2 separate regions of the Homo sapiens genome follow, and region 2 is linked to region 1. Evidence: fine-mapped expression QTL. A gene starts in region 1. The other region holds a variant in brackets. All regions are shown on one strand. Distances are from middle to middle.

Region 1 (5,380 bases):
AATAGGAAGGTTGATTTGATGCAAAATATCCAATCAGTAGTAATTAATTATGTTAATTTTGCCCTTGTTCTTTAATTTAAAAAATGTCCAAAGTCCTTTTAATGACAATATGTATTACCACGATACTAAAATTTCTTACCAAAGTCCAAAACACTGGTTTTCTACATGACTCTTCCGGGTAAAAGTGAATTATCAGCAGAGCAGTAAATAAAATACATTCACATTAATCCTCAAGTGACTTCAAGTCTAGGGGAGCACTGAAAGGGTTACATTCATAGGATTGATTTAAAGGCAACTTCTTTAAACAGCAGTGACTTAAAAGTAATTCTAATTGCCGGGCGCGGTGGCTCACGCCTGTAATCCCAGCACTTTGGGAGGCCGAGGCGGGCAGATCACAAGGTCAGGAGATCAAGATCATCCTGGCTAACACAGTGAAACGCCATCTCTGCTAAAAAATACAAAAAAAAAAAAAAAAAAAAAAAAAAAAAAAAAAAAAAAGCCAGGTGTGGTGGCAGGCGCCTGTAGTCCCAGCTACTCGGGAGGCTGAGGCAGGAGAATGGCGTGAACCCGGGAGCAGAAGTTGCAGTGAGCTGAGATCACGCCATTACACTCCAGTCTGGGAGACAGAGCGAGACTCTGTCTTAAAAAAATAATAATAATAAATAATTCTAATTTAAATTCTTTCTGGCCAGGCAATCAACACAGGAAAGAGAAAAGGTCTTGATTTTCTACTAGTTTGTGTCTTGTGAAAGAATTTTTTTTTTTTTTAGACGAAGTCTCACTCTGTTGCTCAAACTGGAGTGCAGTGGCACTGTCTTGGCTCACTGCAACCTCCACCTCCCGGGTTCAAGGGATTCTCTTGCCTCAGCCTCCCGAGTAGCTGGGACTACATGTGCGCACCACCATGCCCAGCTAATTTTTGTATTTCTAGTAGAGACGGGGTTTCACTATGTTGGCCAGGCTGGTCTTGAACTCCTGACCTCGTTATCCGCCTGCCTCGGACTCCCAAAGTGCTGCACCTACAATGGGCCACCCCAGGGGACAAGCTGTTGGGACTGGAATGCGGTGGCAAGAGCCGTGCACTCTGGCTGCTGAAACCTGCTGTTTCCACTGTAAGCTACCACTTAGTGAATATTTTCTACGTATTGGGAACTGTACTAAGTGGCTTTCATGTTTTGTTTTTTGTTTGTTTGACTGGTTTGTTGTTGTTGTTGTTGTTGTTGTTGTTGTTTTTGAGACGGAGTTTCGCTCTTGTTGCCCAGGCTGGAGTACAATGGCGCGATCTAGGCTCACCACAACCTCTGCCTCCCGGGTTCAAGCGATTCTCCTGCATCATCCTCCCGAGTAGCTGGGATGACAGGCATGCGCCACCATGCCCGGCTAATTTTGTATTTTTAGTAGAGACGGGGGTTTCTCATGTTGGTCAGGCTAGTCTCGAACTCCCGACCTCCGGTGATCCGCCCGCCTCGGCCTCCCAAAGTGCTGGGATTATAGGCGTGAGCCACCGCGCCCAGCCGCGCCCGGTTTTTGTTGTTGTTTTTGTTTCTAAAAACAGCGTCTCGCTCTGTGGCCCAGGCAGGGGTGCAGTGGCGCGATCTCAGCTCACTGCAGCCTGGAACTCCTGGGGTCAAGCGGTCTTCCCACCTAAGCCTCTCCGTGCTGGGACTCCGGACGCGCTCCACCTCACGCAGCCGTATTCCTGCTTTCAAAGCAGATGGAAGAGGTGCGCCAGGACCCCCAGTTCTTGGAAACAGACCTCTCCAGTTACCTGTTGTTTCCTCTTCACGAAGAGTGCATGTAACAGTAAGACACAACTGTTTCATATTATACGTAAAGAGTTCATGCCAAAGGTTATAGACAGTCACATGCTAAAACTAGGCTACACTTTGAAGAATCACCGCTCAAGTTCTGGAAAAAAGAGGTGACTGTTGAACAACACTGTGAGGGTAATCGATGCCACTGAAATATACACTTAAATTGATTAAAGTGGCGAATTTTATCTGGCATATATTACCACCATTTTTAGAAATGTTTTTTGGCAGGTGAAGAAAAGCAAGGCTCCAGGAGGCCCTGCGCACCGGTCTACGCCCACTAACTCACCCGCCCCCTGCGCCGCGTCTCCCCTCTCAATTTCAGTCGCCCATTGATAAAAACGAGGTGGCTATGTGAGATGGCCTTCAGCGGTCTTTCCAGCTCCACGGTTTTACAGTGTGGAGCGGGGAAAGAAAAACTCTAAGGTCCTCGCTGCAAAGCAACCATCAGAGCTCCGCCGCGCCGTGCCGCTCCTCTCCGCCCCGTGGTCCGGGTGTCACCGCCCGCAGGGGCGCAAGGGCCGCAGCACGCGTGCGCAGTGGGCACCAAGAGCGCTGCGTCGACCGCGCCGCGCCGGCCCTCCGCCGCCGCGCCCGCCTACAAGGCCCTGAGGGAGACTGCGGAGGGTGAGTGCGCGGTGGGCTCGGCTGACCGTTGGCCCTGCGGCCGGCGCCCTAGGCTACCTCCCTTCGCCTCCCCGCGCCTCCCCGCGCCTCCCCGCCTCCCCGCCTCCCCGCCTCCTCGGCTCTGGTTCCAACACCCCAGCGCCAAGCCGGGGAGGCGGGGAGGACTTCTTAAGTGTGCCGCTCGGGAGCCTCCCGCTCGTCCCGCCCCGAGGGGCGTGAGGAGGGGAGGGGCTGCGGACTTCGGACTCGGGCCTGGAGACCGCCTCCTACCCAGAGCCGGAGCCCGCAACCCGCTCAGGCGGCGACGGAGCCATGTCGCCGCTGCTGGGGCTCCGGTCCGAGCTGCAGGACACCTGCACCTCGCTGGGACTGATGCTGTCGGTGGTGCTGCTCATGGGGCTGGCCCGCGTAGTCGCCCGGCAGCAGCTGCACAGGCCGGTGGCCCACGCCTTCGTCCTGGAGTTTCTAGCCACCTTCCAGCTCTGCTGCTGCACCCACGAGCTGCAACTGCTGAGCGAACAGCACCCCGCGCACCCCACCTGGACGCTGACGCTCGTCTACTTCTTCTCGCTTGTGCATGGCCTGACTCTGGTGGGCACGTCCAGCAACCCGTGCGGCGTGATGATGCAGATGATGCTGGGGGGCATGTCCCCCGAGACGGGTGCGGTGAGGCTATTGGCTCAGCTGGTTAGTGCCCTGTGCAGCAGGTACTGCACAAGCGCCTTGTGGAGCTTGGGTCTGACCCAGTATCACGTCAGCGAGAGGAGCTTCGCTTGCAAGAATCCCATCCGAGTCGACTTGCTCAAAGCGGTCATCACAGAGGCCGTCTGCTCCTTTCTCTTCCACAGCGCTCTGCTGCACTTCCAGGAAGTCCGAACCAAGCTTCGTATCCACCTGCTGGCTGCACTCATCACCTTTTTGGTCTATGCAGGTTTGTCATTCTCACCAAATACTTGGCACTTCCAGAGCCTCTATGACATGAGGCTGTAAGTTCTTTACTAAAATACATTTGAAACCGTCTATCCCGCTATGATGTAAATGCTGGTATCCCCGTTATTCTAACCATTTTGCAGCCCGTTCTTAACCAGTAGGGCCGACACGTAGAGCCTTCATGCAGTGCTGCTTTGAACACCCAGAGAAAGGAGCCACCTCTGTGCTGAAACTGAGATACTGTGAGATATTGCCAAGGGTTCAGATATCCTACAAAGGGATTGTTTTAATGGTAGAAAGGAAAGATAACTTATTAACTGCCTCTTTCTTCATGCCAAGGTGGTATAGATCGTTTCGGATACTCTTACTGAAAAATGATCCTGGCTTTACAAAGTTCCTTTCGATTTAAAGCACAAGGCACATGATTGGTTAGTATAAGAGCGGAGGGTAGAAATTTTGTAGTTCCATTTTAGTCCTATAAATGATTTAAAGTCATTTCTTATTTCCTTAATAATTCATTTTGAGTTATGAAATTTCTTATTTCCTTAATAATTCATTTTGAGTTATACATGAACTTTTAAGTGACCTATTAAGAAAAATGTTTAAATGATAACTTGCTTCAAATTAAAGATGCTTTTTAAAATATAACTCTTGAGAAATCTGTTGATTTCTTTTAAACCATTTGTTTACTTTGACAGATCTCAGATGCAGTGGGCAATCTAGTCCTAAGTGGGAGGAGGAAATCCAAAACACAAGTATTTAATGATGAAATGTGTCATTTTAAATGATTACAACAGAATATCTTTATTGGGACTACATCTAAATTATAAAAGACTGTGGAGGCAGAAATAACAACAAAGGAAATTTGTGGTAATAATCTTCTGCCCATTAAAAGTGAAACAATGACTAGAAGCAAACTTCAAGATAAGGACTCCTAAACACGTACTTGACCTTCTAGGGTAAAAATGAAAGCCTTCAGCCGGGCGCGGTGGCTCACGCCTGTAATCCCAGCACTTTGGGAGACCGAGGTGGGTGGATCACCTGAGGTCAGGAGTTTGAGACCAGCCTCGCCAACATGGTGAAACCCCGTCTCTACTAAAAATACAAAAAAAATTTAGCCAGGCATGGTGGTGGGCGCCTGTAATCTCAGCTACTCGGGAATCTGAGGCGGGAGAATTGCTGGAACCCGGGAGGCGGAGGTTGCAGTGAGCTGAGATCGCGCCATTTTACTCCAGCCCAGGCGACAACAGTGAGACTCTGTCTCAAAAAAAAGAAAGAAAGCAAGCCTTCCCAATCAATTTCCCCTTCTTTAGGTCTAGTACCACTTTTTAAGTAGACATAAATGGAAATAAGTGGTATAGAAGAGTGAAGGGGGCCGGGCACGGTGGCTCACACCTGTCATCCCAACACTTTGGGAGGCCAAGGCAGGTGGATCGCTTGAGCCCAGGCGTTCGAGACTAGCCTGGGCAACATAAGAGAAATCCCATCTCTCCAAAAAATACAAAAATTAGCCGGGCGTGCTGGTGCGCACTTGTAGTCCCAACTACTTGGGAGGCTAAGGTGGGAGGATCACCCAAGTCCAGGAGGTTGAGATTGTGGTGAGCTGTGATAGTGCCACTGCACTCCAGCCTGGGTTATAGAGACCCTGTCTGTCTCAAAAGAAAAAAAAAAAGAAAAAGAGAAAAAGAGTGACAAGTACAGGCATATTTGAGGGATTGGTGGGTAGTTGCTTATTTATTGAAGTTTTAGATTTTAGCTAAAGCAGAAACATCCCCTGTATATGAACAGAATTGTCACTGCAAAAAGAGTTATGCTATGGTTTAGCTCTTTATTTCTACAATTAAAAGCAGTAAAAACTTAAAAAAGAATTTTTACATCAATAGAACATTAACTACAGTTGGATTTTTCAATACCTATGTTCCTCTTCCCTCTCTTGATTAACCTGAAGTTGATATTCTTTCTGTCTACTTTTAATACATATTTATGATTCCATAGATAATACTGTATATATT
Region 2 (5,380 bases), 61 kb before region 1:
CTCTGGAATTGTCCTTTCTAAAAGTCACTAGAACAACAGGAGGGAAAAGTGAGATCTTGAACTCCCCAGGGAATCAAAGTGGCACTTCCTTCCCCTTTCTTTCTTTGTCTACCTTTGCACTGTTGCCATCCGCTGGGACCTCTTTGGAGAGGAGGTTTTATTCCCCTGCTTTCTTTCAGAATCCTGCTTCACATAATCTTCACTAGCTCTTCACAAAGAAAACTAGGACTCTCATTTATTTTATCCAATCCACCACTACATCCAGCCTTGAAAACAGCAGGCAGCCTATTATTCTCTAACAGGGACAAATAGCAGGATGGAGCTTGACTATTTTCCATGAGGCTGATTTTTGCTAATCTAACGCATTTATTCTTTGACACCTTTTCATGGCCAATTGAGAAGTGGTACCCAGAAAGACAGTAATGCAACTTAGAAATGTATGGAAAATTGATAATGTTGAGATCTTAATTGAGGTGAAAATAACCAAATAACGTGTGGAGGGACATTAGGACCATTTTGTAGTATTGACAAAAGATACATGACACATAGCCTTCCATCCAACAACTCTGCTCTAGGATTCTAGCTCACAGAAATACACCAGGGAGCAAAGGCATAAGAGTAACATTGTTTATTGAATTATAACTGTAGAATCATATGAAATGACATAAAAAGATATGTATTGTAATGTGGAAAAAGTAAAATGCAGAACAATATTATATGTGTGGTTTCATTTTTGTTAAAAAACACCACATGTGGTTGCATATACCTGTGTATATTTATAGACATAAAGAAAAAGGCTGGAGGCCAGGTGTGGTGGCTCACGCCTGTAATCCCAGCACTTTGGGAGGCTGAGGTGGGCGGATCACGAGGTCAGGAGTTCAAGACCAGCCTGACCAACATGGTGAAACCCGGTCTCTACTAAGAATACAAAAATTAACTGGGTGTAGTGGCATGCACCTGTAATCCCAGCTACTCAGGAGGCTGAGGCAGGAGAATTGCTTGAACCCAGGAGGTGGAAGTTGCAGTGAGCCAAGATCACACCACTGCAGTCCAGCCTAGGCGACAGAGTGAGACTCCATCGCAAAAAAAAAAAAAAGGGCTGGAAAGATACATGCTAAAGCCTCCTTTTTCTGGAGAGTGAGACTGGGGAGTGTGGTGAGGGGAAATTTCACTCTGTTTCATACACTCTGGATTATTTAAATCTATTGTAAAAACCAATAAAGGAAATTAAGAATAAGTGGATTGGTATAAGGTAGTTAATTTATTTTTTATTTTCTTTATTCTTTCGAGACGGGTTCTCACTCTGTTGCCCAGGCTGGCATCCAGTGGCATGATCTCGGCTCACTGCAACCTCCGCCTCCCAGGCTCAAGGAATCCTCCCATCTCAGCCTCCTGAGTAGCTGGGATGACAGGTGTGCACCATCACACTGGGCTAATTTTTGTATTTTTTGTAGTGATGGGGATTCACCATTTTGCCCAGGCTGGTCTCTAACTCCTAAGCTCAAGTAATCTGCCCACCTCAGCCTCTCAAAGTGTTGGGATTACAGGCCTGTGCCACCGTACTGGGCCTGGGTCATTAATTTATAGAGCATTTATTTTGTGCCAGGCACATGATAGATACTTTATATAGATCACCTCACATGTCCCTCCAATCTTCTGATGTAGGTAATGTTATCCCTATTTATGAGTGAGAAAACAGATTCAGAGAAGTAACTTGTCCAAGGTAATAGAGGTAGTAAGTAGCAGACCTAGGGTTCAAACTCACACCTTTCTGATTCCAAAGCCAAGATCTTTCCATTGGTCTGACAATGCTCTCATATGATATAGTCCTGGCTCAGCAGATGGGCTTATTAACATTACTACATTGCCACTGAATGTTAGGTTTATTTTTAGAAACTTACGGAAAATTTTATACACAAAAAGGAAAAGTGTAATGAATCCATGTGTTCATTATCACCCAGAGTCAATAATTATTAATAC[T/C]CTGCATCATTGTTTTATCTATCCCCACAAATACTTTTTTTTTTCTTTTTGAGACAGGGTCTCGCTCTGTCACCCAGGCTGGAGTGCATGCAGTAGCTCAATCACAGCTCACTGGAGCCTCAACCTCTCAGGCTCAAGTGATCCTCCCACCTCAGCCTCCCAAGTAGCTGGGACTACAGGCGAGTGCCACCATGCCCAGCTAATTTTTTCTATTTTTTGTAGAGACGGAATCTCACTATTCTGCTTAGGCTGGTCTCGAACTCCTGGGCTCAAGCAATCCTACAGTCATGGGCCACCCCACCCAGCCTATCCCCACAAACACATTTTTGGGAGAGCATTTTAAAGTAAATTCAAGGTTTATCATTTCATCATCAATATTTCAATCTCTAAAAATAAGAACTTAAGAAAACATAGCCACAATACCATTATCACACATAATAAATTTAACAGTAATTCCTTAATATTATCTAATATCCAATCCACGTAATTTTCCTACATTATCTCCAAAAAATAACTTTTTTTTTTGTTTGTATGTGTTACATATGTCTCTTTTTTTTTTTTTAAGAGATGGGGTCTTCCTCTGTTGCCCAGGCTGGAATGCAGTGGCACAATCATAGCTCACTGCAGCCTCAAACTTCTGGGCTCAAGTGATTCTCCCACCTCGGCGTCCTCAGGCACATGCCATCACGCCTGGCTAATTTTTAAACTTTTGGTAGAGATGAAGCCTTGCTATGTTGAGCAGACTGGTCTCAAATTTCTGGCCTCAAGCAATCCTCCCACCTAGGCCTCCCAAAGTGCTAGGATTACAGGCATCAGCCACCACACCCAACCTGTCTTAAGTCTTCAAGTCTTCTTGAATCTGTACTTTTCCAGCTCCCTTTTTCTTCATACCATTTATTTCTTGAAGAAATTGAGTCATGTGTCTTGGAGAATTTCCCATCTTTTTTATTTGATGTTTTATATCCTTATGGTGTCAATTTGCATGCTTCTCGGTTTTTCATATTTCTCACAAACCAGTGGTTAGAAAATTGTTAAATTCAGGTTCAATTATTTTGGCAAGAATATTTCTTAATTGGTGTTGTATACTTCCTACTACATCATATCAGGAGGCAATTAATGTCTGGCTGTCCCACTGTTAATAATGCAAAGGTGGTACAGTAGGTTCAAAGGTTGTCAGCCTCATCTATCTATTGCAAAGTTTCTTATCAACCATTCACCTAATAATTTTAGCAACCACTGATGATTTTTGCCTAGATCTGTTATTTTGTTAGGGATTAAGTTCATTTTTAATCCCGCAAGACAGGTATTTTTAAACACCATCCTGAGATGGGATGTAGGTCTCAAAAATATACATTTTATGACCTATTGTGTATTTACACAAGAATCATTGAGCTTTTAGCCTTATTTTCCTAAGACTATCAGCATTCTGCCACCTCATAAGGCCCATTTAGAATCATTTTGCTACTTAGAGTCACATTTTTATTAATCTATTTGGAATTTTTATCTATGCTGCAATCTCTAAATAATTCATAAAAAGGAAGAAGGCAGGAGGGGACAGAGGAAAGATATTATATCACCAGTCTTGATATATGCCTCAGTAAGCCACTTCAACATCTTTGAGTCCTTTTAAACTTCATGCCCAGGGCAACCTTTTACATTAGAAAAAGATGTTATTTTAGTCTCAGTGATTCTATGTCTATTCTTATTTTTTCCACATTCCTTGTAGCTTTTGTCCTGAGCCAAGTTCTGAAGGTAAACAAAGGGGAAGGCCTGGGTTCTGTTCTCCAGGGGTTCACAATCACCTACATGTAACAGAGAAATGCCCAGAAGGCTCTTGGAATGCAGGAAAGAGACACTCCCAGACTACAGAATCAGGGACAGCATCTCAAAGGAGAAGATGTTTAGCAGAGTTTTGAAGGATGAGCAGAAAGTAAGGGGAGGGCATTCCAAGAAAAGAAAAAACCCATACAAAGGCAAGAAGACGGAAAAGAATAGGCCTTTTCAGAGCACTGCACATGGTTTTGAATGACTGGGAGAGCAAGGTTTATAGGGAGAGGTAGCTGTGCTGGAGCAGTGACAGGGATAGGCCATGAGGAGCCAGGCCAAAGAGTTAGGATGGCTCTGAAGGACTTACAGCAGAAGAGTGGCAGAGTCTGATTGATCTTGTCTTGTTCCCCAGTACATTTTTTTCCTCCTTTTTCCTATTGGGGTGAAATTCACATAACATAAAATTAACTTTTTTAAGGTGAAAATTCAGTGGCATTGAGTACATTCATAATGTTGTGCAACCACCACCTCTATCCAGTTCTAAAACATTTGCATCATGCTAAAAGGAAAGTCTATACCCATTAAGCAATTACTCCCCTTTCCCCTCTCCCCTCAGCTCCTGATAACAACCAGACAGCTTTCTATACCTGTGGATTGATCTATCCACTCAGTATATTTTCTTTTTAAAATTTATTCAAGTAAAATGGATTTATTATAGAAGAATCAAGATAGAGATGAACAGAAAGAAAAATAAATATTGCTATCATCTTAGCATCATGGGTAAATTTTTTATGCTGTGTATTCTTCTAAACAATTTTCCAAGGCTTCTCCCTCTCCTCACCTCAGCATGTCACCCAACCCCCATATATTTCACAAGGTCCTCCAACCTTCTGGAGTCTCCCCAACCTTTGAGATATAAAAGAATCCTGCTCAAACCCCTATCCTATGAATGTCATGAAACCCAAGTCCCTACCGATATCTCTGAAGGGTCTCATATTGAGCCAGAGGTATGTTTCTTTTGATCACCTCTACCTCTGATTTTCTGCCTTGATCTCCACCCCTCATACTTCCTGCGCACCTTGCCCTTTCTTCTACAACACATCACCCTGTTGGACACTTGCTCAACCTCTTCTCTCCCCAAAAGATGGCCTAAATACGGTTGTGTGTTTAGCAAACTTTGAGGAAAGATTTGGGGGCTAGAGGGGCTAGCTTATATTGAAGCTCAGAGAACATCTTGAAACCAAGTATTCACAGTTCTTTTAAGAGTCCACCAGTCATTCCTGGCATTGGACAATTCTCACTGGCCATGCCTCCACCAGCTGCCCACCCTCTCCCCCTCTTCCCTTCCTCCCCTTTTCATTTTCCAGATTTAATCTGGCTGTAAACTCCAAAGCACTTATTGCCAATTCCCATTTCCTTTTGTGCAAGGCAATTTGTTGCTCCTTTTGTTTGCTCCAGCTGACAGAGATTCTAAATTATTTTGCTAACTCAAAACAGTCTCTCCCCATCAGAACGCTAGTGCCAGCTTGTCAAACTGACACTTTTCCCCCTACTGGCTGTATTTCCAGATTGCCTTGTTATTTTAAATGTCCTTCCTTAATTTGCCCAGGAGGTTTTCAGGATTTGTTGTTGT

Which allele goes with the higher level. Alleles are on the strand shown, and positions count from the first base shown. SD is a standard deviation of normalised expression in the study named.
In carriers of allele T in region 2, the expression in anterior cingulate cortex of the gene that starts at base 2,711 in region 1 tends to be lower than with C alone (small effect, 0.38 SD a copy in GTEx).

Evidence for each region. PIP is the estimated chance that this variant, and not a neighbour inherited with it, causes the effect.
Region 2: its variant is the best candidate, but not a certain one, in a credible set for the expression of AQP11 in anterior cingulate cortex (GTEx, PIP 0.69).

The regions. Positions count from the first base shown.
Region 1 is chr11:77,587,243-77,592,622 of GRCh38, forward strand. AQP11 (aquaporin 11) reads left to right here and starts at 2,711. Exons shown (of 3, transcript NM_173039.3): 1 at 2,711-3,369. The coding sequence starts at 2,751. RefSeq lists a silencer at 2,058-2,687.
Region 2 is chr11:77,525,834-77,531,213 of GRCh38, forward strand. It overlaps a transcript of PAK1 not described here. Among named protein-coding and RNA genes, the nearest start is that of LINC03030, 43 kb to the right of the region's middle. RefSeq lists a silencer at 1-5. The variant T/C (reference allele first, on the strand shown) is at 1,981.